Regions from separate parts of the Homo sapiens genome. Here regions 2, 3 and 4 are each linked to region 1. The links come from fine-mapping of genetic effects on gene expression. A gene starts in region 1. Each other region holds a variant in brackets. All regions are shown on one strand. Distances are from middle to middle.

The links. PIP is the estimated chance that this variant, and not a neighbour inherited with it, causes the effect. A credible set is the group of variants that fine-mapping cannot tell apart.
Region 2: its variant is the best candidate, but not a certain one, in a credible set for the expression of TTYH2 in whole blood (INTERVAL, PIP 0.89).
Region 3: its variant is the best candidate, but not a certain one, in a credible set for the expression of TTYH2 in unexposed skin (GTEx, PIP 0.55).
Region 4: its variant is the best candidate, but not a certain one, in a credible set for the expression of TTYH2 in lung (TOPMed, PIP 0.71).

Annotation. Positions count from the first base shown.
Region 1 is chr17:74,210,504-74,216,410 of GRCh38, reverse strand. TTYH2 (tweety family member 2) reads right to left here and starts at 2,840. Exons shown (of 14, transcript NM_032646.6): 1 at 2,695-2,840. The coding sequence starts at 2,823. It overlaps MGC16275 (a long non-coding RNA gene), which reads left to right and starts at 3,090. Exons shown (of 2, transcript NR_026914.1): 1 at 3,090-3,887; 2 at 4,729-5,907. It overlaps RPL38 (ribosomal protein L38), which reads right to left. Exons shown (of 5, transcript NM_000999.4): 5 at 5,756-5,907. RefSeq lists enhancers at 496-545, 5,869-5,907 and a silencer at 2,804-2,963.
Region 2 is chr17:74,249,389-74,255,295 of GRCh38, reverse strand. It overlaps TTYH2 (tweety family member 2), which reads right to left. Exons shown (of 14, transcript NM_032646.6): 8 at 5,897-5,907; 9 at 5,268-5,360; 10 at 4,939-5,031; 11 at 2,920-3,062; 12 at 2,030-2,215; 13 at 1,463-1,541. Among named protein-coding and RNA genes, the nearest start is that of DNAI2, 22 kb to the left of the region's middle. The variant C/T (reference allele first, on the strand shown) is at 2,802.
Region 3 is chr17:74,234,478-74,240,384 of GRCh38, reverse strand. It overlaps TTYH2 (tweety family member 2), which reads right to left. Exons shown (of 14, transcript NM_032646.6): 4 at 2,871-3,091. Among named protein-coding and RNA genes, the nearest start is that of TTYH2, 24 kb to the right of the region's middle. The variant C/T (reference allele first, on the strand shown) is at 2,965.
Region 4 is chr17:74,271,783-74,277,689 of GRCh38, reverse strand. It overlaps DNAI2 (dynein axonemal intermediate chain 2), which reads right to left and starts at 3,456. Exons shown (of 14, transcript NM_023036.6): 1 at 3,345-3,456. The variant A/G (reference allele first, on the strand shown) is at 2,701.

The sequences.
Region 1 (5,907 bases):
TCCCCCGCACCACCCACATCCTAAGGCCAGCACCTGCCTGTTTCCATCCTTGCTTAGTCTCTGATGCACACGCACCCACCCCCCACACCCCACACAGCCAGCACTGTGCATTTGAACATGTGGGGCATGAGCTGAAGCCCTTTCTGCAGGCGTTTTGTTCAGTCTCCCCCAATCAGAGTCTGTGGAAGAGATCTCCTTCCTCTCCATTCCCCAGCAGGGTACTGTCCTGAGACACACTCCTGAACCTCTCAGCCACTCCATTGAATGATCTGTGTCACTGGCTCCTGTTATGTGCTATGGGACTCTCTGTACTAGGCATGATATGTGGAATATCTCATCTAATTCTTGCAGATGAAGGGAACAAGGCTCAGAGAGGTTAAGACACCTACCCGTGGTCACACATGGAAAGAACTGGGAATCCACCCCAGCCAACTGGAGGGCAGAGCCCCACCTCAAACTGCTTGGTGTCTGCCATAGCACTGCGCCCAGAGCCCAGCCGCAGAAAATCCCCAGCAATTTCTCCTGAAGACCTGCTGCCTTGGTTACCACGGTCACCCCACGCCTGGCATAGCACTTGCTCCAGTCAAGCTTGCTGAAGACTGGGATGACCGACGGTCCACCTGACTCTGTTAGTGACTGGTGCTCAGGAGGAAAGAAGACATCCAGGAGAGACCTGTGGTCACAACAGGGGAACTTACCAAAAACAGGAGCCACCTTAAATAACACCCAGAGCCAGACTTCCGGTCCTGGCCCACCACGCTCATCTCCTACTCAGCGATCTGAGTGGTGGTGAGGGGGTGAGCGGGACCAGGAGCCAGTGGGCAGGGCTGGTGTCAGCTGCCCAGGAGCAGTGGCCGATGGGAAGGGACACCCTCTGGAACCATTTGATGCCCAGCACAAAGTGAGCCGGGGCCAGAATCCTGGGAGGAGGGGCAGAGGCTGGAGGTAGGTTCATCTGGCTCAACTGCCACCTGCCCATGGGACTGAGGGGGCTGTGGGCAGGCCCAGGATCCACCAGCCACAGCTGTTGGGCTGATAGGAACTGTCTCTGGGGCCATCAGGGTGAGGGAGTCCCCTTACCATCCCTACCCCCACCTAGGGGTCTTCTTGACCCAATGAAAAGTTTAGATTTCCTCCAGTGGAGAGGAGAAAACTATGGCTGGAGACCCCGGGTGTGGGATGTGGGGCACAGGGTTTGGGATGGGGACACACACACACACACACACACACACACACACACGGCTGTTTCTGAAATCATATCCGCCTCTTTTCATGCATTCTCTGGGAGAGGAAGATTCCCTGGAGCTATCCCCAGGCAGCCACATTCTCAGGGAACACAGACTCCCACAGGCTGGGCTCTGGGGGAGGGGGGTGGGTCCACCGACTGCCGTCTTGCTCCTGAGTGCCCACTGAACCCCAGGAAGGGGTCCTGATGCTCCCCTCCCTCTGGTAGGGCAGGCACCATCTGCCTGGGCCTGATGGCAGCCGGGTCGTCAGGGGTTATTATTAGACTCCCTGTCACTGGCGCTTGGGCACCTCACACTGGATCAGGATTCCCTCCAAGAGGCCCTGCTTTGCCCTGATCTGTCCCATATCTGGAGAACTTGACACAGGGAGAGGCCGCCGGGGGCCAAAGTCCTGAGATGGGCGCCTGGCTCTGAATAAATGGACCTCATCCTGGTCCACTGGCCCCAGAATCTTTGACCCAACACAAGGAACTGATACAGGTGGGCTCCCGGGGCCAGAGCAGGCGTGACCAGACCTGAGACGGGCTGGGAGATTCTGCAGCTTTGTTTGTCTGGGCAGGGAGGTCTGGGGAGCCCTGGCCCTGTTTGTGGGGTGCAGAATCCTGCCAAGGGTCAGCAGAGTAGGGAAAGGGCGGGGAAGCCGGGAGTGACTGCCCTAGGCCAGAAATTCAGGGCTTAAAGGTGTGAGGTAGAGAGAGGGGCGTGGGGGAACAGGAATGGGCCAGTCTAGGACCAGGGGACACAGAGAAGCTGACTGTCAATGCAAGGGGGTCCTCAGGACAACAGTGTGAGATGGGCTGACGGAGGCCACCTTCCTTCCCTGGAACAAGCGCAAGCAGCTGTGGGTTCTCTGCGCTAGAGGGGAAGTGACCCACACCGCTTCCCCAAGCCCTGCAGCCTTCCAGCTGAGACTCCCACCCTGCAGGCCGGGGCTGGGGAGGAGGGGTGCTGCGAAGACCGACTCGGGAGACTCTACTCAGTTTCTGCCAAACTTTCCTAGGCCACTCAGCCCCGGAAAGAGAGCGCCCCATCTTGGAATCTCAGACGGTCGAAAACTTCGGGGCACCCCTCAGCATCCCCGCACCTCGCGCGCCAGGATTACCCCGAGACGAATGCCCCTGTCCTTACCCCTCCCCCGCGCCGCCCTGCCCGCTCAGCGTTCAGCCCCTCACCCCGCAGGCGGTCTTGCGCCCTTCCTCCCCTTCCCCACGCTCGCTTCACTCTGATCTCTTCAGTTTTCCCGGCCCCCAGGTTCCCAGACAGGAGGGGACGCGGGCCACGGGCCTGGGAGGGTGGGGGAAAAGGGGAGAGGGGAGACGGGAAAGGGCTGCGCGGGGAGAGAAGGGGTCTGAGAGGCACGTGGGAAAGTGCAGGCTCTCGAGGGGAGAGGGGGTAGTGCGGGGACTTGGGGCGCGCGTGGCTGCGGTCTGGGGCGGCGTAAACTTACCTCCTGGTAACTCTCGTCGCCGGGGCTGAAGGTGCTGTTCACGGGCTGCAGGCGCAGGCCGACGTGCGGGACGCTGTGCAGCCACACGACCCACCAGGGAGCGATGTAGTCCACGCGCGCCGCCTGCATGGCTCGGCCCGAGTGCTACCCACAAGCTGAACGACAGCTGCGCTCACCTCCCGGCCGGGGCCCCGTGCCCGCCCCGCCCCCGGCCCCGCCTCTCCCTGGGCCCGCGCCCGCCCCGCCCCGCCGCGATCCCAGTCCCAGTTCTGGGCGCGCAGCCCGCTGCAGTCAACAGCCCCTTTCTGGGCGGGGATCTGTCCTGGCCGGATGGGAGGAGGGAAGTGAAAAAAGCTCCCAGAAGTCTCTAAATCAGTTTCAGTCTCGAGGTCCCCGGGCTGCTTCTTATTTATGATCAGATCAAGGGTATAAGGTGTCAGTGGGGGCAGCCAGCAGTCATAGGCCAGAGAGGGGCGACTGCCCGTCCCAAGGGCTTGTCACAGGGTAAGTAACCGACAGACTGGGAAAGGAAGGAGGCAATCTTCAGCCACTCGGTCACTCATTCTAAATTCACTCTCATTTTTTGGGCATCTATTGTGCAAGCCCTGTGGACTTAAAAAGAGAAATAAGACGCCGTCCCTGCCCTCGGGAGCTCCCGGCGCATCTGCCCCAACAACTCGCTGAAGCCGCCTGCAGGACGCCTGAGTGAGGACAAGGTGTCTCACTCAGAAAATTTGCTTGATTCTTCCTGGCAAGTGGGACAGGGTGAGCTTCCCGGAGGAGGGGACCTTCGAGCTGTGTAGCGGGGAAGGTAGGAGAGCGATGAGAGCGCCCGGAAGGGACAAGCATTCGGGGAGACTGAAGCGCATTCAACAACATATTTATTGAGCACCTACTACGTCCAGGCACTGTTACATCGGTGATGTAACAAAAGCCGACAAAAACCCTCACCCCGAGCGCAGGCACCGCAGAGGGCGATGACGACCCGAGAAGATGCCGAACGCAGGCCAGGAGGGGGCTCTGGGGAAAAGCAAAGGCAGGGGAGGTTGCCCATCGGGGAGCCTCGCGTCCCTGGGCCCTCCGTACTCTGCACATATGCAGAGGCCCCCACCCGTCCTGTAACCGCAAACTGCTTGGCGTGACTTGGCCAGCGGAGGGAGGAGCCCAGGCTGCAGGACAAGCAGGAGTCAGGGGTAGGTGCGGTGGAGTGATGGGGTCGCGGCAGATTGGGCGTGGAAACCGCGCTGGGCAGCCAGCCTGAGGGGTGCGTATCCACCGCGGCAGGGACGCGGGTGAGAAAGGAGCCCCGGGAGGACGGGGCGGGGCTCCTAGGGTTCTGGCTGAAGGGACCGGGTGGATGCGGACCGACTGAAAACGCTCGCAAACACATATGGCTGCTGGGGAGTGGGGCCCCAGTCACCCGGTGCTCAAAGGCCCTGTGTCCATTAGAGGAAGTCCTGGCCTCGGGGCCTCTCCTCGTGGCCGTGATCCCACGGTTCTGGGGCCCTGCAGGAGCCCAAAGCTGAGGGGCCCGGAAGGCTGGAAACAGCCATTCTTCTCTCATTGGGGTGTCTTTCAACAAATTTTCTTGAGCACGTTCTCTGTTCTAGAGGATACAGTAATGGATAAAACACACGTTCCCGCCTGCATGGCGTCTACAGCCTAGTAGGCGAGGTGAGGTGGACTTGTATCCTGCAAACAGCGATTGCAGGCCTTGTGAAATGTCAGAGTCCCTGCTGTAGGGAGAGGGGATGGAAGGTGGGCGTCAGGGTTGTTTCCCAAAGGACAGTGACATGAGCTGAAGGATGATCGGGAGTCAAAGAGGGGGGTGCTGGGGGAGGCCTCTGTGCAGAAGGAACAGGACCCTGTGAGATCAGGGACTAAGGCCAGTGGAAGGGGAAGCAAGCAAGTTCCAGAACAGGACAGGGAGCCGGAGAACTGCAGGAGCCAGGCGATCAGCTTGGAGACTGCGGCAGGGGAGGGAACTTCTTTGGGTGAAAACCTCCTTTTAAAAGGTCTTGGTCTCTGACTCAGTCCCTGCAGTTGCTGGGGAAAGTGGACTCTTCTGGTAGCTGCTTTTACAGCCCCTGCCCTCAGAGGCCCCCCAGGTGGGAAGGGCCTGCCTCCTAGGCAGTGGGTGGTCACCGAGGACTGACTTTGAACCCGGGGCAAGGGAGCCCCAGAAGGCTGGAGGCCTGCACACGGCACTGGAAGAAACAAACTGCAAAGGCTGTCCCTCAGGGCTATCTCCACAGCCACCGGAATGCGGCCTGGAATATCCAAACCTGTCAGCCCACCTGCACCCAGCCAGACAGCGACCATTCTAGCTGCTTCCCCGGAGGCCTGCTGACCCAGAGAGGTGTCAAAAAGCTGAAGCACAACAGACAGACCTCCCACAGACTCAGCAGGGAGTTGGAGGACAGTCGGCACACCAGCAGCTGTAGCCCATCACCTCCCCCCTCCCCATTCACCTGGTATGCAGCACTTAAGGGCTTGCTGAAGCCCCAGCAAAGCAGAGGCCCACCTGAGAGCTTGGAAACACACCTATGCCCCAGACCACCGCAATCGCAATCTCCAGTCAGCCCTGGCCACCACAGTGAACTGCCTAAGTGCCCCAGATGACTGAGTCACAAGCCAGGGCTGGGAAGCACTGCATGAAAGGCGGCCTTCTCTAGACAAGGCTGGACACACCCCTGCAAGGCCTGTCTCCTAGGAGCTGGGATGAAACTCTGGACGATGTGCTGGGAACAAAGAAAACCCACATGGTAAAGGCTCGCTTTTCCTTGGGAATCTGCAATGCTTACAGAACGGGAAAGGCTGAAAGCCGCCCACAGTGCCGCACCTGGGCCTGAGGGCTGGTGTACCCACCCTCTCCCGGAGGAAACAAGACCCGTGACCAGACTCAAAACCACCTCACACCCTCACAATCCTTACAGAATATTCAAAGACTGGCACTTCAACCTTACAACCTGAGCACGTCTAAATGCCTAACACAATACCAAGCACACTGTATGCCACGCTTTTAAAAGGTAGAGATCTTAAAAAAACAAAAAACACTACCTCGGGTATGAAGACAGATTTTATGATGCCAGTCATTTCCAGAGGGGCTGCCCGCTGTGGCACAGCACCACCTGGTGGCCACCCCAACCCATGCACCTCCCCCCATCCCAGTACCCTGACAGCAAGCCAATGAAAGAGGTGTTAATATGGCTA
Region 2 (5,907 bases), 39 kb before region 1:
AGGAATGTGCTAGTATTCCCATACTCATTCTATAGATGGGGAAACTGAGGCACAGAGCAGCAAAGTGCTTGTCCAAAGTCACAGAGGCCATAAGCCATGAGCTGGGATTTGAACCCAGGCCTTTGGCACTGGAGTCCGTGTCCCTGAACCTTGGCGGTCACTTCACTGTCTGTTTACAGCTTTCTTTGTCTCAGCCAGTATTTCTGTGTCCTTTGGATACTTCTCTGGGATGAGACAGCATAGTCTTTCCTTCTCAACCTGCCCACCCTGAGCTACTCCCCTGAGGCTGTATCTCAGGTACTCTGGCTGGAGGTGGTGGGGTGGACAAGAGGCACTGGCCCTACTTGGGCACAGTCCTAGGGACATGGGGAGCTGAGACGGATTGAGGAAGGCTGTGTTTGGGTTCAGCCCTCCCAGACCCGCCACCACAGCCAACCCACCGTCCAGCCCAAAAGAGACCAAGGATTAAGGTAAACAGAAATCTAAAAAGAAAAAAAATTCCTTAATTTTCTCTGGAGCAAAAAGGGAAAGAGACCCCCTCTCTTCTTGCAGTATTTCCTTTAGAAAACTTATCATTGTAAATAATTTCTGTCTTTTGAGATGTCTGCAAACCTTCTTAAAGGCTGAATATGGCCCTTGCCAGTGTTACAATCCAGGTATGGTTTTTTCAGGTCTGGGAGCCATCTCTTGGAAGTACAAACATCAGGAAGACAGCACCTCATCTCCTTCTCAGTGACAGTTCACTTAGGGGCCTGGCTCCAAGTTGTAGCTATCTGATTGTCACGGAAATAGGAGTTTTATTTTTCCTCTGGATAAAGGCAATTAGCTGGCCGGGCGCGGTGGCTCATGCCTGTAATCCCAGCACTTTGGGAGGCCGAGGCGGGTGGATCACCTGAGGTCAGAAGTTTGAGACCAGCCTGGCCATCATGGAGAAACCCCATCTCTACTAAAAATACAAAAATTAGCCTGGCGTTGTGGCACGCACCTGTAGTCCCACCTACTTGGGAGGCTGAGGCAGGATAATTGCTTGAAACCTGGGTTGCAGTAAGCCGATATTGCGCCACTGCACCCCAGCCTGGGCAATAGAGTGAGATTCTGCCTCAAAAAATAAATAAATAAATAAATAAAGGCAATTACTTAACCAGGATGGCCACCCCAATTAGCAAGTGGATTAAGGTGGACTACTGTGACAAACAGTGCCGTCAAGTCCTCTTGCTGGATGACAGGTATGCAGTGGGCTGTGTCTTGTTCCTGCCTGGCTAGGGGAAGGAGTGAGATTTCTTGCATCTTTGCAATCTCCTTAGCGGACTGCCTGGGATACCCACGACGGTCTGGTTTAGTGCATATTCAATAACAGAACAGTTTCATTCTTTTCTGCCTTTGTGGACAGGATTCACTGGGTTGGCAGGAGGTTTTGTCTTTATGTATTACCCCAACAAGGAAGGGCCAGAGCCCCAATTACCGTAGGCGGAGGGGAGGCTCTCCCGATTAGTGGCACGTTCTCGTAGCGTGGGTTCCTACCAAAGAGCATGGCTTGGTTCCTGCGGGGATGAGAGGAGAGCTCAGGAGGGGATGGTGTGGGAGTGGGGGTGTGTGTAGATTTCTACAGGAGGGTCCCATGGGTGAGCACATGGGAGGTGGGGGATGGAACCAAACCACAGATAGAGTGGAGGGGGTGCAGTGGGCAGATATGGAGAAGAGCACCTTGGGAAGCCTGGGGACAAGTGGCTGATGGGCAACGGAGGCTGGGAGCAGCATGGCCTGGAGAAATGCAGCTTTTTGGGCCTGAGACCTGTCCCACCAGCTTGTGGCAGAGGCTGCTGACATCAGTGGTTTCTTCCCCCAGCACATGTGGGTGTGGAGGGGTGACTAGATGCTCCCCGGGGGCCTTCCCTCCAGGCACCCTGTGGCTGTAGTGGGGACCACGGGTGGCCTTGGATGCCTTCCTCCCCACACCCGGCACTGTGGACCCCACCCAACATGCTGTCCGGGCAGTGCTACCCAGCCTGGGTGTGTGTGCAGGCCGTACATGTACTCGGAGACAGGGGCGTTGGAGATGGTCTGGGCCGGGGGCTGCAGGCTGGTCTGACTTCCCAGGCCACTGCTGTAGCTGCAGAAGCTGTGAAGCTGTCCCCTCGGGGGACTGTGAGCCGCCATGCGCCAGGCTTGGGGGTTAAAGGGGTCATCATCATCAATGTCATCGTAGTCTCTGTTTCTAGAACAATGGGTAGAAGATGGCCGGCTGTGAAGGGTGAAGGAGGCTCCGAGGCAGCCAGGTCCTGTCCTACTTCCCTGCCTTTCCTCCCAGGACTCTCTGGCCACGCGTGTCTCCTTGAGACTCCTCTAAAACGCGGTCCCCAGCCTGCCTCCTGCAGATCATTCTGGCCCATTCCCAGCTTCACGACCAGCTCTTCCAGGCTCCCCACCACGCTGACCATGCGCATGTGGGTCCCCACTACCCTGCGTCCTCTTGCCTAATCCGCTCACCAGGTGCCTGTACACCATGTGTCCCTGCCCATCTCCTCAAGGGGACTGCAGGCTCCCTGAAAACAGTGACCCCATGTATCCTTCTTGCTATTCCTGGGGCACCCCTCCCAGCACCAAGAACTCTCCTCATTCCAGATCGCAAAGTCCTGGTGAGAAGAGAGGAGAAGGGAGGCCAGACTGTGGCCTGAGGGCTGTCACCACCCTGGGCCCCAGCTCTTGCTCTGGGCCCCACCGAACTCCTTTGGAGGGTCTGTGTGGACTCTTGGGGAAGCTTCTGTAGAAGTCAGCCAGCCTGTTGGGCTGAATGCCCGGGC[C/T]CTCTGCTGCCCTCCTCAGTCCTGGGTTATCAGCTAAATCGTAGAGCAGAGGCCCCTGTCTGCTGCTCTCCCAGAACTCCAGGCTGTGGGAGGCTCCCCTCCTTACTAGGCAGCCCACCTGGTGGTGAAGTGCTTCCAGGCCCTTGGCCCTGCACAGATCATGGTGGAGAAGGCGAGGGCGGCCAGGAAGGAGAAGAGGCCAAGGTACAGCAAGCCCTGGAGGCCGTCGTAGCAGATGCCAGCAAGAGCGTCCAGATAATCCTGGAGGAAGAGGAGGGACATGCAGCTAGTGAAGGAGCGGGGGCAAAGCCTGCGGGCCGAGCTCTCCTCTGGAAGTCCCTCTCCCCCGAGCCTGGACCTGGGGTCTCCTGGCTGCTCCCCATCCCGAGCGCCTTGCAGCACCATTAAAGGTCCACACTCTGGAGCCTAACACAATGGGGCTTCTTGGGTTCACGCTGGAAACATTTGCTGAGCACTTACTGTGAGCTGGGCACTAAGAAGCTGGCTCTGAACAGGGCGGAGGAGGTTGCAGGGTGGGGAACCAGAGACGGGGGCACTGAAGCTGAGGCCAGGATGGCAAGAAGCAGCACACCTTGAGAAGAGGGGGCAAAGGGGACAGGCTTGGCCTGTTCAGGAAAGAGAGAGAACATAGGCCAGCAGGGGCTGGGTCGTGCTGGGCCTTGCAATGCGGGAGAGGAGTACGGACTTTTAAAAGGAGTCAGAAAGACATTGGAGGGTGTGGGAGTGGAAGGGATGTGATCCAACCTAGTCTGCAAAAGGACTGCTCTGGTTGCATGTGTGAAAGCTCATGGGTGGTGAGGGGGCAAGAGAAAGTGGGAAGAGGCCACTGTCTGCTGGAGGGGCAGGACCGGATCGTGGTGGAAGCCATGGAGAGAAAGAGAAATGGATGGATTCAGGGTACAGCTGAGAGGAGAGCTGCCAAGACTTGCTGGGGATTAGATGTAGAAGGGGAAGAAGAGAGGAGACAGGGGTGACTGCCATGTTCTTAGCTCTGAGGTCAGACTACCAGGATCTAAACCCAAGCCCCTGATGTGCCAACTCGGGACTCTTCAGTAAGCCACTTTATAAATACACGCACACACACCCCCCACACACATGCACCCCCCACATGCACACACACATGCACCACACACACCACATACATGTGCACACATGTGCACACAACACACATGCACACACACCACACACATCACAGACATGCACACACCACACACACGCACACACCACACACCCCACACACACATACAGGCACATACACATGCACCACACACACGCATGCACAGCACACATGCGCACAAGCATGCACATACCACACACATACATACACACATCACATATGTGCACCCACACAACCGCAGAAACACACCACACACGCACAGACATATACACCACAAGTGCACACACACGCACACACACACAGACACACGCACGTGCACACACACATAGCTGTATCTATGGATCTATCCATACACACGCACAAGCAAGTCAATTTCCTAGGAAATAACGTGTGGTTCACAGTATAACTGTGAGAACTGAATGACATACTGGATATAAAATGCACAGAACAGGGCCAAGCATGGAGCTGACAGCTGTGATGATGACAAAGACTGTCTGCACTAAATCCATCTGGGATGTGAAAGCTGTCGCCATACACTGGCTCACTGCTTTTGGGTGGGGGGCTCTCACGTGCTCCCCATGTGTTCCCTGCATCATTGTGTCTGTCTGATATTCCAAGTTCCTGGAAAGAAGACTCTGGCAATGGGATTGGGACATCCACTTGCAACCCAGGGAGACAGATGTGTTGAGGAAATGGCTAGGAGTCTGGACAATGGGGAACAGCCTCCCTTGCATTGTTCAGGGTCCCCCAGTGACCCAGAGCCAACCGCATCCAACCCTCCCATCCCGAACCCCTGGTCCCTTGTACTGAGTCTCCCTGTCTCAGCCCCTGGAGAAGCCAGGCACCCCCTCCCTTCCCATTATCTGGCTTCAGTTCCATTCCTGGGCCGGAAGGGGACCCAGGCCATCGCTCCCCTCGGCCTCTACCGGCTTTTCTCTGGAAGGTGTGGCCTGCTGGGTGCCCTCACACTCTCCACGTGACCCCAGGGTCCCCATGCACCTTGTGCAGCCCTCGGCAGTCCACCATGGCGGTCAGCTGGTGAAGGCTGGACTCTGAGGAGTTCAGCAGGAGCTGGATTGCAAGCAGGTCTTCCTGAAGCGGGAAGAGAGCGAGAGAGGCCGAGGGGCTGTGGAGGAGAGCTGGCGGAGAAAACCACCACAGCAGCTGTGCTCAGGGGCCTCTAGAGCCAAGGGAGGGAGCCGAGTCACGGGGGCGGGAGAACAGAGAGCCAGCAGCAAGCTGTGCACAGCCTGGCCCTGGGGCCGGGGCAGGGGAAAGGGCTGTCAGGGTTCATCTGGGGCTCCCCTCTTCCTGCACAGCTGCCTTACCTCTGCAGTGGAGAAGAGGGGCACGGCAAACTGCAGCAGCCCCGCGACCTGGATCTGCATGGTGGTAAGTGCGCGCTGGAAGGTGGTCAGGGTCTGAGCCAGGAAAGACACAGCCCCACAGTGAGGCTCCGTCTCCCAGGAGCCCCACAGTGAGGCTCCGTCTCCCAGGAGCCCCACAGTGGCTGAGGGGCCTATGCTCCTGCCCCTCCCACCCCCCCACCTGGCTGCAGCTGCACAGGCCCCTCCACTTGCAGGAAGTCTCCCCCTACTCCTCTGGCTTCTTGAGAGCTGCACAGTCTTCTCCCTGCTTGCAGCTCAGATGTGGTCTTTGGACCAGCAGCCCTGGCCTCACCTGGGAGCTTGTGAGTAGTACAGAATCTCGGCCCCACCCCAGAGCTCCTGGACAGCATCTGCATGGGAACTAGCTCCCGCATTGAGCTGCATATGTGTTAACCACCAATCTAGAACCCACGACCAAAAGCACGCCCCCCTCACAGAAGCAGCTAAGGAGAGGACCACAGTGAGGCAAGCAAGGCCCTGCCACCTCCGCCATCTTGGTCAGTGGTGAGGCTTAGGGTCAAGGGGGAGCGGCTGTGGGCAGGGTGAGGGCAGGCCTCGGGGGGCCATACCTGCTGGAAGG
Region 3 (5,907 bases), 24 kb before region 1:
TCACTGCAGCCTCCGCTTCCTGGGTTCAAGCAATTTTCCTGCCTCAGCCTCCCAAGTAGCTGGGACTACAGGCGTGCGCCACCACGTCCAGCTAATTTTTGTATTTTTAGTAGAGATGAGGTTTCTCCATGTTGCCCAGGCTGGTCTCGAATTACTGGCCTCAGGTGATCCACCCACCTCAGCCTCCCAAAGTGCTGGGATTACAGCATGAGCCAAACCTCTTCTGCCTCAACCCGAATAAGCAGTGGGGAGTTGGGGATGGACTCACAGGGGGTCCTGTCAATCACCCACGCTGAAATAGCTGATGTGCAGTTGACACCATCCTTCCACTATTTTAATACCATCGCCTTAACAATAAGCCGCCTTTGATATGTAAATTCTGACTTAATTCCATCAGTGTCATTAACAAAATGCCCACATGAGGCCCTTAAACATACACAGTCCTCTGCTAGGTGTGCTCAGAGAAGAGTGACGTTAAAATGGGTCCTGCCCCTGCCTGACATAAGATTTCGAAGGCTCAGGCAATGAATGGCCCATGCATCAGGAGAATCATCAGACACCCCTGTTTTGGGGCCACAGGAGGTCACAGACAGTCCTTAGAGCTGGCAGTTTCCTTCTGTCCCTTGGGAGGGAGGCTCTTTTGCCCATGAGCATCCATCTGCTGGGGAGTGGGGCCAAGGTCCCTTCAATCCAGAGCATCCAGGACATGGCGGAGATGCAGGGACTGGACGGGCTGGGGAGGCAAGGTGTGGGGAGGACCCCCAGAGCTGGGGACTTCATGAGCTCCCTCTGCTCAGGGACCTGCCACCTCCTATTTTTGGGAAGGGGAGAGGCCCCTGGACTCAGTCCAGCAGTGACCTCCTGGAGTGGGGCTTTATGACACAAGGGGACACAAATCCAGAAAACAGAAGTAAGTTGTGCAACCCTGAGCTAAAGGCTCTGACGTTCATCAATGGCTTGAAGAGGAGCCAACAAATGGAGGGTGCGGGGAGGGATCCAAAGAACTGACACTCGCTCCTCCTGACTCATGCTTCCCCTCCCCACGTGCCTCCTCCATGCTAGGCCCGGGCCCTGGGAGCACAAGCCCAGGCCATCATTCAGCCGGGAGCCCTCCAAAGGCTGGGGCTGCTGCCTCCTTCCTGTGCTTTCCACGGAGCAAACTTCGCTGGACCCTGCACCTGGAGAGGGGCAGCAGGTCCCTGCTCCGCCGATTGTGTCCAGTGCCTCTGGCTAGGCTGGGATTTGGCAAATGGGGAGGCAGGGGAGATGTAAACAAAGCCCCAGAGGTCAGATGACACGGGCATGAGTTTGTACACCTAAGTGAGGGTGGTGCCCCTCAGTCCCCATCACTCAGGTTCTACATAAGTGAGGCTGGTCTGGGCATGGTGGCTCATGTCTGTAATCCTTGGACTTTGGGAGGCTGAGGTGGGAGGATTGCTTGAGGCCAGGAGTTTGAGACCAGCCTGGGCAACAAAGCAAGACCCCTATTTCTAAAAAAAAATTTTTTTTTTTTTTTTGAGATGGAGTTTCCCTCTTGTTGCTGAGGCTGGAGTGTGATGGCATGATCTTGGCTCACTGCAACCTCCACCTCCTGGGTTCAAGCAATTCTGCTGCCTCAGCCTCCCAAGTAGCTGGGATTACAGGCATGCGCCACCACGCCCAGCTAATTTTGTATTTTTTAGTAGAGACAGGGTTTCTCCATGTTGGTCAGGCTGGTCTCGGACTCCCGACCTCAGGCGATCTGCCTGCCTTGGCCTCCCAAAGTGCTGGGATTATAGGTGTGAGCCACCAGTCCCAGCTGCAAAAAAAAATTTTTTTAAACTAGCCAGGTGTGGTTGTATGCCTGTAGTCCCAGCTACTCAGGAGGCTGAGGCGGGAGGATCACTTGAGCCCAGGAGTTCAAGGCTACAATGAGCCATGATCACACCACTGCACTCCAGCCTGGGTGACAGAGTGAGATACTGTCTTAAAAAGAAAGAAAAAAAAAGTGAGTCTGGGGACACAGCCTCATTCCTCCCTTGTGCCTCCTCCACGCTTAGGCCCAGGCCCTGGGAGCACAATGACTTGTAGGTCAGAGCCTCCCCTGATGGCAACTTCTTAGCACCCTTAGCCGGGTGCTCATCTCCTCAACCCCCCATAACCCTGTGGCTGTGTCTGTGGATACAAGAAATCCTGTCCCATGAACTCTGGCAGGCGAGGAACCTATGAAGCATGTGGCGTTTCCACCCTGCACCAGCCACGAAGAATGCTAGTCCCAGAGAAGCACCCCACCGTGTGCGGGAGGCTGAGGCCAGGTCCAGCCTTTGGCGCGGGGAGTGTGAGCACATCCCTGTCCTCTGTAGCCTCTGCTGCCTATCTATTAAGGAGGCTATCCTGCATGCTCACCACGTGGCCCCTGTAAGCCCCCATGTTCTCCTGATTTTGGCCAATGGCTTATCAAGACTTTCTGGTGGGCTGGGCATGGTGGCTCACGCCTGTAATCCCAGCACTTTGGGAGGCTGAGGCCAGTGGATCACTTGAGGCCAGGAGCTCGAGAGACTAGCCTGGCCAACATGGTGAAACTCTGTCTCTACTAAAAATACAAAAATTAGTCTGGCGTGGCGGCACACACCTGTAGTCCCAGCTACTTGGGAGGGAGGCTGAGGCAAGAGAATCTCTTGAACCCCGGAGGTAGAGATTGTAGTGAGCTGAGATCGTGCCACTTCACTCCAGCCTGGGCAACAGAGCAAGACTCTGTCTTAAAAAAACAAAACAAAAAAAAAATACTTTCCAGTGGCCCTTCTCCACCTGGAGCTCAACATGCAGGTTTGGATAAACAAAGCTGATGTAGCCGCTGCTGCCCCTCCCTCTGCCTCCCACCGGTCCTTCACCTGTAGTACTCCACGTAGCCAGTCTGGTCGGATAGCTTGGTCAGCTCCATGGTGACCTCCCTCCACACGGGCAGTCCTGAGAGCTGAACAACAA[C/T]GCTGCCCGCCATCTGCTGTATGAACTTCAGGGTCTGCAGGTAATCGCCCCGGGCAGCAAAGATCTCACTGAGCCGGGCCAGGTGCTGCTCTAGGTCCACCTTCATCTTCTGGGTAGTTCCGGAAACCTAGGGAGGAGCAGGGGGCAAAAGCCATGGAGGTAGAGCTTCTGATTCTCATCCCGGAAGAGGTCTTTGCAGGCAGCAGAAGGTGGCCTGGCCAGGTGCGATAATTACGCTCATGCCTGTCATCCCAGCACTTCGGGAGGCTGAGGCAGGCGGATTGCTTGAACCCAGGAGTTTGAGACCAGCCTGGGCAACACAGTGAGACCCTGTCTCTACAAAAAAATATATAAAAATTAGCCAGGTGTGGTGGCATGTACCTATAGTCCTAGCTACTTGGGAGGTTGAGGCAGGACAATCACTTGGACCCGGGAGGCGGAGTCTGCAATGAGTCAAGATCGCACCATTGCACTCCAGCCTGGGCGACAAGAGTGATACTCTGTGTCGAAAAAAAAAAAAAAAAAGCTGGCCTGGCCTGCTTAGGCATGAATGAACACACCATGCTGCCCCAGGCCTGAAGATCTCGAGCCTGTGCCCCTGGAGGAAGGACTGAAGACAGAGGCCGCCACTACCCACCCAGTCCTCATGTCCCTCAAACCAGGGGGCAGTCCCTGACCTGGCCTTAAACAGGATCTGGGCTCCGAGAGAGAGAATGCTGGCGCCAAAGGAGCACACCATTATGTGTTGCAGGCTGAGGCCAGGTCTAGCCTCTGGCGCTGGGAGTGTGGGCACATCCCTGCCCTCTGGAGCCTCTGTTGCTCTCTACTAAGGAGGCTATCCTGTGTGCCCACCACGTGGCCCCTGCTGTAAAGGGCTGGAATAAACGTATGCATTCATTACTATACCTTACTATATACAGAGACACCCAGATGGAGAAACCAACAAAATAATCCATTATTCTTTGAAGATTCTCTTAAAACTTTCAGCACTTTGGCTTACAAATTCTCTTTTAGAGAAACAGACTCTATGTTGCTACCTTGACCTTGTATCCCCACAATAGGATTTCTAATTGTTCTATAAGAGAAAAGCTTTGTTGTGGCACTAGCCGCAGCACACCGGGTCCTGAACGCTGAGTGAAGGCAGGACAATGGGACTTTGCAAAAACAAAAACAGCTGCGATCCTGTCTCTGAGGAGCCTGGACATGAGGCAGGAGGAGGAAACCGGCGCCTTCTCCTTGTATTCACATCCTCCCCTGGATGTGTGTCCTGCTGGGTGGGCAGACAGGCTCCTGTCCCTTGGCTGAGCCCTAAGGGCCTGGGGTTGAGTGGACCCTGAAGGAAACATCTGCCAATGCAAGACAGAAATAGAAAGTTGACGGCTGGCCATCCAGTTAAAAACATTATTTATTTATTTATATTTAAAGGTACTGCTCCTTGCAGAGCAGGGCTACCCTCTAGGCAGTGTGCCAGAGTAGCCCGTTCATCCATTTCTTTCTTTCTCTTTTTTGTTTTTTTTTTTTTTTTGAGATGGAGTCTCGCTCTGTGTCACCCAGGCTGGAGTGCAGTGGTGCAATCTTGGCTCACTGCAACCTCCGCCTCCCGGGTTCAAGTGATTCTCCTGCCTCAGCCTCCCTCCCAAGTAGCTAGGACTACAGGTGTGCACCACCATGCCCGGCTAATTTTTGTATTTTTAGTGGAGACAGTTTCACCATGTTGGCCAGGCTGGTCTCTCGAGCTCCTGGCCTCAAGTGATCCACCCACCTCGGCCTCCCAAAATGCTGGGATTGCAAGCATGAGCCACCACGCCCGGCCATGTGCATCCATTTCTAATGGTCCAAGTGGTCAACCCTAGCTGGCTTTTGAAGAGCACAGGCAGGGCTCGTACTGGTTAGCGGGACTTTCCCACAGCCCAGACCCAGGGTGCCTGCAGAACCCCGGGGTGCAGCTTGGCAGCCCCAAGCACGCCCTTGCTGGCAGCGAGCGGAGAAAGGGCTTTGTTGTTCTGAAACTGTCACACTAAACCAAGAAGCACAACGGGCCGGGAGTGGGGCAGTGTGCACTAATCCACACTCGGCAGCCTTCAGCTCCCACGGGTCTGGGAGATAAAAACGACACAGAAGAAGAGGCAGAAACTTCCCACAGTGAGATCAGCAAGGCCGATTAGATTCCACTCTCGGAGGCCAACGGTGTTCTCTGTGTTATGGGGACTTCACATCAGCTGTGTGGCCTTTTACATCTGCGCTACGCTGGGAGTTCCTAGTTCCAGAAAAGAGAATGGCTCTCTTTGTTTCATTTTGTTTTATTTTTTCAGTGTCAGCGGCTTGTTCCGTTTTCTGGCTTATGCTTGGTTCTTACGAGTTGGTTAAGGACTAAGAGATACCAGAGTACGGAGACACTCTACCATGTGCAGATTCGACAGCCCGAAGCACAGGGGAAAAGACCCCAAACCATGTAAAAGTACATTCAGTAACTAAATGTCATGCTAGTACACTTGGCTGTTCAATTTAATAAGATAAATGTACAACCACTTTGGAAACATTTATACAAATGGCACTATCATCAAAGAATAGTGCCATTCTGAACAAACCCAGTAATAGGTGACATTTCTATATTTCTATATTTCTATAAATCAAACAAACTTCAGAGTAAAGGGCTGTTAAAAAATTATCTGTAAACTTTTTCTGTGAGGCCACTTGTTTTCTCCCTCACAGTTCTACTCTCTCACAGTTAACTTCTCTATTTCTTAAACTCCTCCTTAGGGGGAAAAAAAAAGAAGGCAGTATTTGTATTTGTCATGCCTTCTCTTTCTTCCTGATATTTTCCCACAGGAAACAAAACTAAAAAATTGTTTTTTTGAGATGGGGTCTCGCTATGCTGCCCAGGCTGTTCTTGAACTCCTAGGCTCAAAAGATCCTAAAATTTTAAAAAATAAGAATGACAGC
Region 4 (5,907 bases), 61 kb before region 1:
CCCGCCTCCAGGGCTACAAGGCACCAGACCAGTGGGTCCTGGCCGCTGGCCCCTGAGAGGCAGGGCAGGAGCTGTGTGCCCCTAGAAGCATGTGCCAGGGGGAACTTGGGCCCTGGAGCAGCTGGGGCAGCAGGTGGGGAGAAGGAGGGTAGGAAGGTTAACCCTTTGCATCCATATACATTGTGTCTTGAAGACAGTACCACCCCATCCCACTCCTAGCCCCAGAGCAACTCAACCTTAACCAGACTGTTGCAGAAAGTGGCATTTTCTTTCTTTTTTTCTTTTTTCTTTTTTTTTTTTTTTTTGAGATGGATTCTCGCTCTGTCGTCCAGGCTGGAGTGCAGTGGCAAGATCTAGGCTCATTGCAAACTCCGTCTCCCGGGTGCAAGCGATTCTCCTGCCTCAGCCTCCCGTAGCTGGGATTACAGGCACATGCCACCATTCGCGGCTAATTTTTGTATTTTTAGTAGAGACAGGGTTTCAGCATGTTGGCCAGGCTGTTCTTGAACTCCTGATCTCAAGTGATCCGCCCACCTCGGCCTCCCAAAGTGCTGGGATTACAGGCATGAGCCACCGCACCCAGCCTTGTTTTCTTCTCTTTCTTGTAGTTTGGAAATTCTCTTTCCTGGGTGGGAGCAATGGCTTAGAGGGCACAGGGTGGGATGAGAAGCCCAGATTGTAGCGGGGTGCCCCAGTGTGTTTTTACCACATGGACAAAGCTACGGCCTTGTGAAAAAGCATGCAAATCCCGTGGCATCCTCCCCTTTGCCAACACAGTGTGAAGCAACTGTGCCTCCCACATGGGGCTGCAGGACTCAGGCAATTAGGGCTGCCTGTCTCTGACTTTTAAAAGAAATTGCTGCAAGCCAGCTGGCTCCTAGGGGACACAAGGAGATTGAAGAGAATGAGGAAACTCCAGGAAGACAGAAATAGCCTCTTTAGCCCAGATCAGATTTTTAACAGCTTTGCTTTCCTTCTTGGTGTTTCCCAAGGCCAAGCCCCGAGTGAGAACAGAGGCATTGTCTTGTGTCTGGAGGCAGACAGAGGGGACATTTAAAGACTGGCCTGGTGACGGGAAGACAACCCATTCAAGGACCCAGAGCAAGCTCTTCTCACAAGCTAGCAGGGCACACAGATGAATAGCAAGGTCAGCAAAGGGCGTCTCAGGAGGTCTCCCCCAACCTCTTGTGAGACTAGTGCTAGAGGGTGGGCTTCCCCAAGCAAGGCCTGAGCAGGAGTGTCTGCATGGGGTGACAGAGCGGGGACGGGAGCAGTGTCACTGCCCTCTGGAGTTTTGGGGGGAGATCCTCCCCCCGTGGGAACCTAGAGTCCCAGAGGCGTGAAGAACACCACTGTGAGTCTCAAACACAGGAACACGCAGAATCAGGGACGCTGTGGTCCAGACATCAAAGATTCAGGCGTCTCCCGCATCCCCGGGGAGGCAGTCAGATGGGAACCTTCACTCACTATAAAAACAAAACTCGTCTTGTGCAGTGAGAATGAGCAAAGTAATTCCTGGAGAGAACCTCCGGTGGCTTAAGGGAAAGTGTGTTTTCCAAGCTGGGAGGAAGGCCAAGGGAGTGATGGGGAGGAGGAGTGTCAGCGTGGGAGACTGGGAAGGAGGCAAGCTGGAAGGTCAGCCCTCCACATTGAACTCCCTAGTGGAATAAGGAGATGAGAACATTTTCCTCTTCTTCTTGGTCCCTGGTACAGCCCCTACTGGGTTCCTGCGAGTGGTGGGCCCTGCATGGCACCTGGCAGGAGAGGACTTCCTTCCCTCTTTCTTTGTTGTTGTTGCTTTTGGGACAGTGTTGCTCTGTCACCCAGGCTGGAGTGCAGTGGTGTGATATTGGCTCACTCCAACCTCTGCCTCCCAAGTTCAAGCGATTCTTGTGCCTCAGTCTCCTGAGTAGCTGAGACTACTGGTGCATGCCACCACACTCGGCTAATTTTTTTTTTTTTTGAGACGGAGTCTCAGTCTGTCACCTAGGCTGGAGTGCAGTGGCCTGATCTCAGCTCACTGCAACCTCCACCTCCCAGGTTTAAGCAATTCTTCTGCCTCCACCTGCCGAGTAGCTGGGACTACAGGCGTGAGCCACTGCACCCGGCCAGAATTTTTGTATTTTTAGTAAAGATGGGGTTTCACCATGTTGGGCAGGCTGGTCTCAAACTCCTGACCTCAAGTGATCCATCCTCCTGGGCCTCTCAAAGCACTGGGATTACAGGTGTGAAAACCGCACCCAGCTTTCTTTCTCTTTCTTATGTCCTTGTGCACCTTCTGGAATTCCGGGGTCCTGAGGGACTCACTCTACCCTCAAAAGAGGCAGACCTCCCTAGAAAGCCCCCATTTATTTTCCCCCAGGATAGCACTAAGCATGGCTGAGCCCCCCAAGGAAAGTGAAGGTTGAGGGCAGGACGAGTTGGGAAGAGGTCCCCAGAATTGGAGACCGATGGGGGTCAGTGACTACCTGCCCTCACAACTACCTTGTGGTCTCCTTGACGGAAAGACTGTGGTCTTTTATTCACTCCCGTCCCCAGGGACTGGCACATAGAAGGGGCCCAAGACTCCTGTCACCTGCTGCGTTAGTGACTGTGATACCAGCGCCTACCAGGCTTCTCTCTACAGCTCTCTCCCCTGTTCCTCCTCTGCTGACCGTGACAAACAAGCAAAGGATTTGAAACCAAGGATTCGAGAGGAAA[A/G]CACATAGGGTCTGAAAGCTGGGAGAAGACGCACTTCTGTGGTTCAAGAGAATGTGGTAAACCTTGACCTTGAGCAGGAAGGAGGAACTGCACACGCTCCGGAGGAACTCACCAACTGTATGACCTCGATCACACGAGAACGCCAGCTCCCAGGTTGAGGAAGAAATGAAAGAAAGCACTTAAAACACCTGCCACCTAGCAGGTGTGCAATACTGTTAATTTACATCCCTCTATCCTGAGCAGAAAGCTCTCCTCTTAAAGGGCCCATCTTCCCATCACCCTAGCCGGAGGCTGTTTTTCTTCTTTTTTTTCCATCCATTCAGCTGTAAATCCTTCAGAGGTCTCCAGTCCACTCCAGGACAAGGACTGTATCAGGACCTGAGTGGGTAGGAGGGTATGAGGCAGGGTGTACAGAGGCTGCAGGGTCCTGCGACTTGGGGCGGATCCAGGGCAGCGAGGACTAAGGGGAAGAGGGCACTAGGAGCGCTAGTCCTGGCAGCCACCATCTGGCAGAGCTATCCCAGAAGGAAGCCCCCCAAGAGGAATGTTTGGCACTCTTGGTGGTTATTACCCTGTAAGTCTCTCCCTGTCACTCTCCACTCTAGTCTTTAGCCTCCGACGTCCTCCTGGCGCCCGCCCCTTACCCTGGGTCCGCTCCTTCTGCTTCTGGGTCTCTGGGGAAGCGTTCAATCCACGGTCGCGGCTCCGGTGCTCCTCAAACGGCGGCGTTTACCGGTTGCTTGGCAACCCCGGCCTGGCTCCGGACGCGCGGGGCGACGCGGAAGGACCCCGGAGCACGTGACTCCTTTCCTGCCACGTCGGAAGCGCAGGCCATCCCTCTTCTTTTTGGAGGTCTCCTGAGTTAGGAGAAGAATTAACCAATAGGTTGGTAACATACTAATAATGATCATGAATATTTGTAGGGGCGTTGCCAAGGCGCTTATCCAAGCCTACGTTTGTATGCATTTGCATCGAGCAAGGCACCCAGAAAATGCAAGGAAGAATAGTCAGTGCTTGGGAAGCCCTGATCCCTGGGTGGTGATGGCGGGCTCTGCTTACCATCTTGGCCGACTGTGTTGTCCTGCCTTCCTTCAGTTTCCGCATCCATTCAGTGGGAATTATAACTCTGCCCTCCCCTCTGCTACCATCCTTCCTCCACTTTCTGTAATAAAGACATCTTCCCGCACCACCAGAATGGAAACTCCTTGGGAGTAGAAGCTGGGGAATTTTTTTTTTTTTGAGACGGAGTCTCGCTCTGTCGCCCAGGCTAGAGTGCAGTGGCGCGATCTCGGCTCACTGCAAGCTCCGCCTCCCGAGTTCACACCATTCTCCTGCCTCAGCCTCCCGAGTAGCTGGGACTACAGGTGCCCGCCACTACGCCCGGCTAATTTTTTGTATTTTTAGTAGAGACGGGGTTTCTCCGTGTTAGCCAGGATGGTCTCGATCTCCTGACCTTGTGATCCGCCTGCCTCGGCCTCCCAAAGTGCTGGGATTACAGGCGTGAGCCACCGCGCCCGGCAAAGCTGGGGATTTTTACAGCTTAGCTGGGTGATTGGCACGAAATGTACTGTGTTCATTGAATGAATGGTTGAATGAATGAAACGAGTCATGTTTCTCAGGGAGTTAAGGCAATTGCGATCATGTAAATTAAAACAAGGGAATTTGGGGCTAGAAAAAAATGAATTTGAATCCCAGATTGGCTACCTACTAATCTCATGGCCCTGGGCAAGTTCCTTTCCTTTTCTAAGACTCAGCTATCCTCATCTGCAAAGTGGCAGGACAGTGGCGGTGCTTATTAGATAATGGGGAGGATTAAGTGAGAGACAACACAGGGGCGTGTCCAGCCCCCGTCCAGAGCTACTGGTGCCTGAATGAGTGGCAGCTCGGGGAATGAGGTTATCCCGAGTTCAGATGCTGACATCGGAAATTTGGACTGGGACAGAAGAGGAGTGCGTCATCCAAGAAGTGGGATTGGGGTTGGAACTGGGCCTTGAAAAATGGTTATGAGTTGCAGGGAAGAGGAGTGGGGAGGGCGTTCCAGATTGGGGGAGGGCATGGCGTGAGCAAGGAAGGAAGGGGCAGTCGTCATGGAAGAAAGGCATTTTGCGAGGATGGTGGGTGGATCAGTCTGGCTGGGGTTGAGAGTCCCTGCAGGGGAAAAATGAGAGAGGAATTTGCAAAGGTCAGCCAGGGCCAGTCTGTGGGGGGTCCCAAGAGAGGCAGGCTGAGGGGCCCAGACAGCTTTCCATGGGAAGCCCTCAGCGGGTTTGGGATCTGTGAAAGGACAGGAAGGAAGCAAACGTTTCTCTCCCACTTCCCAACTTCTCCATATATGTGTTGTCACCACTACCCACCTGCCTTTAGTGGGGCAGGTGCAAGGAAATTCCCAATGAGACGGCACCTTGCAGGGCCGCACTAACCAAAGACAAGCACCTAAATGACTGCTGCCACCAATCTCTCCTGATCCGTTCTGGCTCGCACCAGTTTCTCGGGACAAAGAACTCTTAGGGGTGGGTGCTGAGGGTCCTGACAGGGGCTGGGTGGAGGAGCTCCTGAAAGACGCATTGAAATGGCTTTGTGTGGTCAGAGGTGAATCAGACCCAAAGTCTCCAAGAATAGGAAACGATCCACTCCATGATGAGGTAGTGGCTGGCTGGGGTTGCAATCATAATGCAACCCTTTCCACTCCACCTCCAGCCCTGGGAAGCCGAGGGCTCTCTGAAGACACATTATTTTGTGGGTGGGAAAGTGGGTTAGAAGGGGAAATAGGAAAAGTTGAAAGGAAACTGCAGCCACCTTTACCATATTATCCAACAATTTAGTACAGGCTCCCCACCCCCACCCTCACCCAGAAGGCTGCAGGCCACCGACCACAGAGGGCAGCTCTGTTCACTGGCCAAACAGTTACCCCTTGGCCGGCTGCCTCGGCGTGAGGTCATATAATTAGAAGTATTCACAAGGACCTAGTTTGAAAACAATTGCGGTGCCTCTCAGATCTTCACCCAATCACAGCATAATTGGCAGCAGAAATTCTTTGCTGAGAGCCGCCCCTGGCCCTGGACATCCCCAGGCATTGCCACAACCCGTTCCACTGCTGTGTCCCCCTTTAGTCCCAATTTTTGTGTGCGTGGTGAACTACACATAAAATTTACCATCTTAACCATTTTTCAGTGTATAGTTCAGTGGTATTAAGTTCATTCACATTGT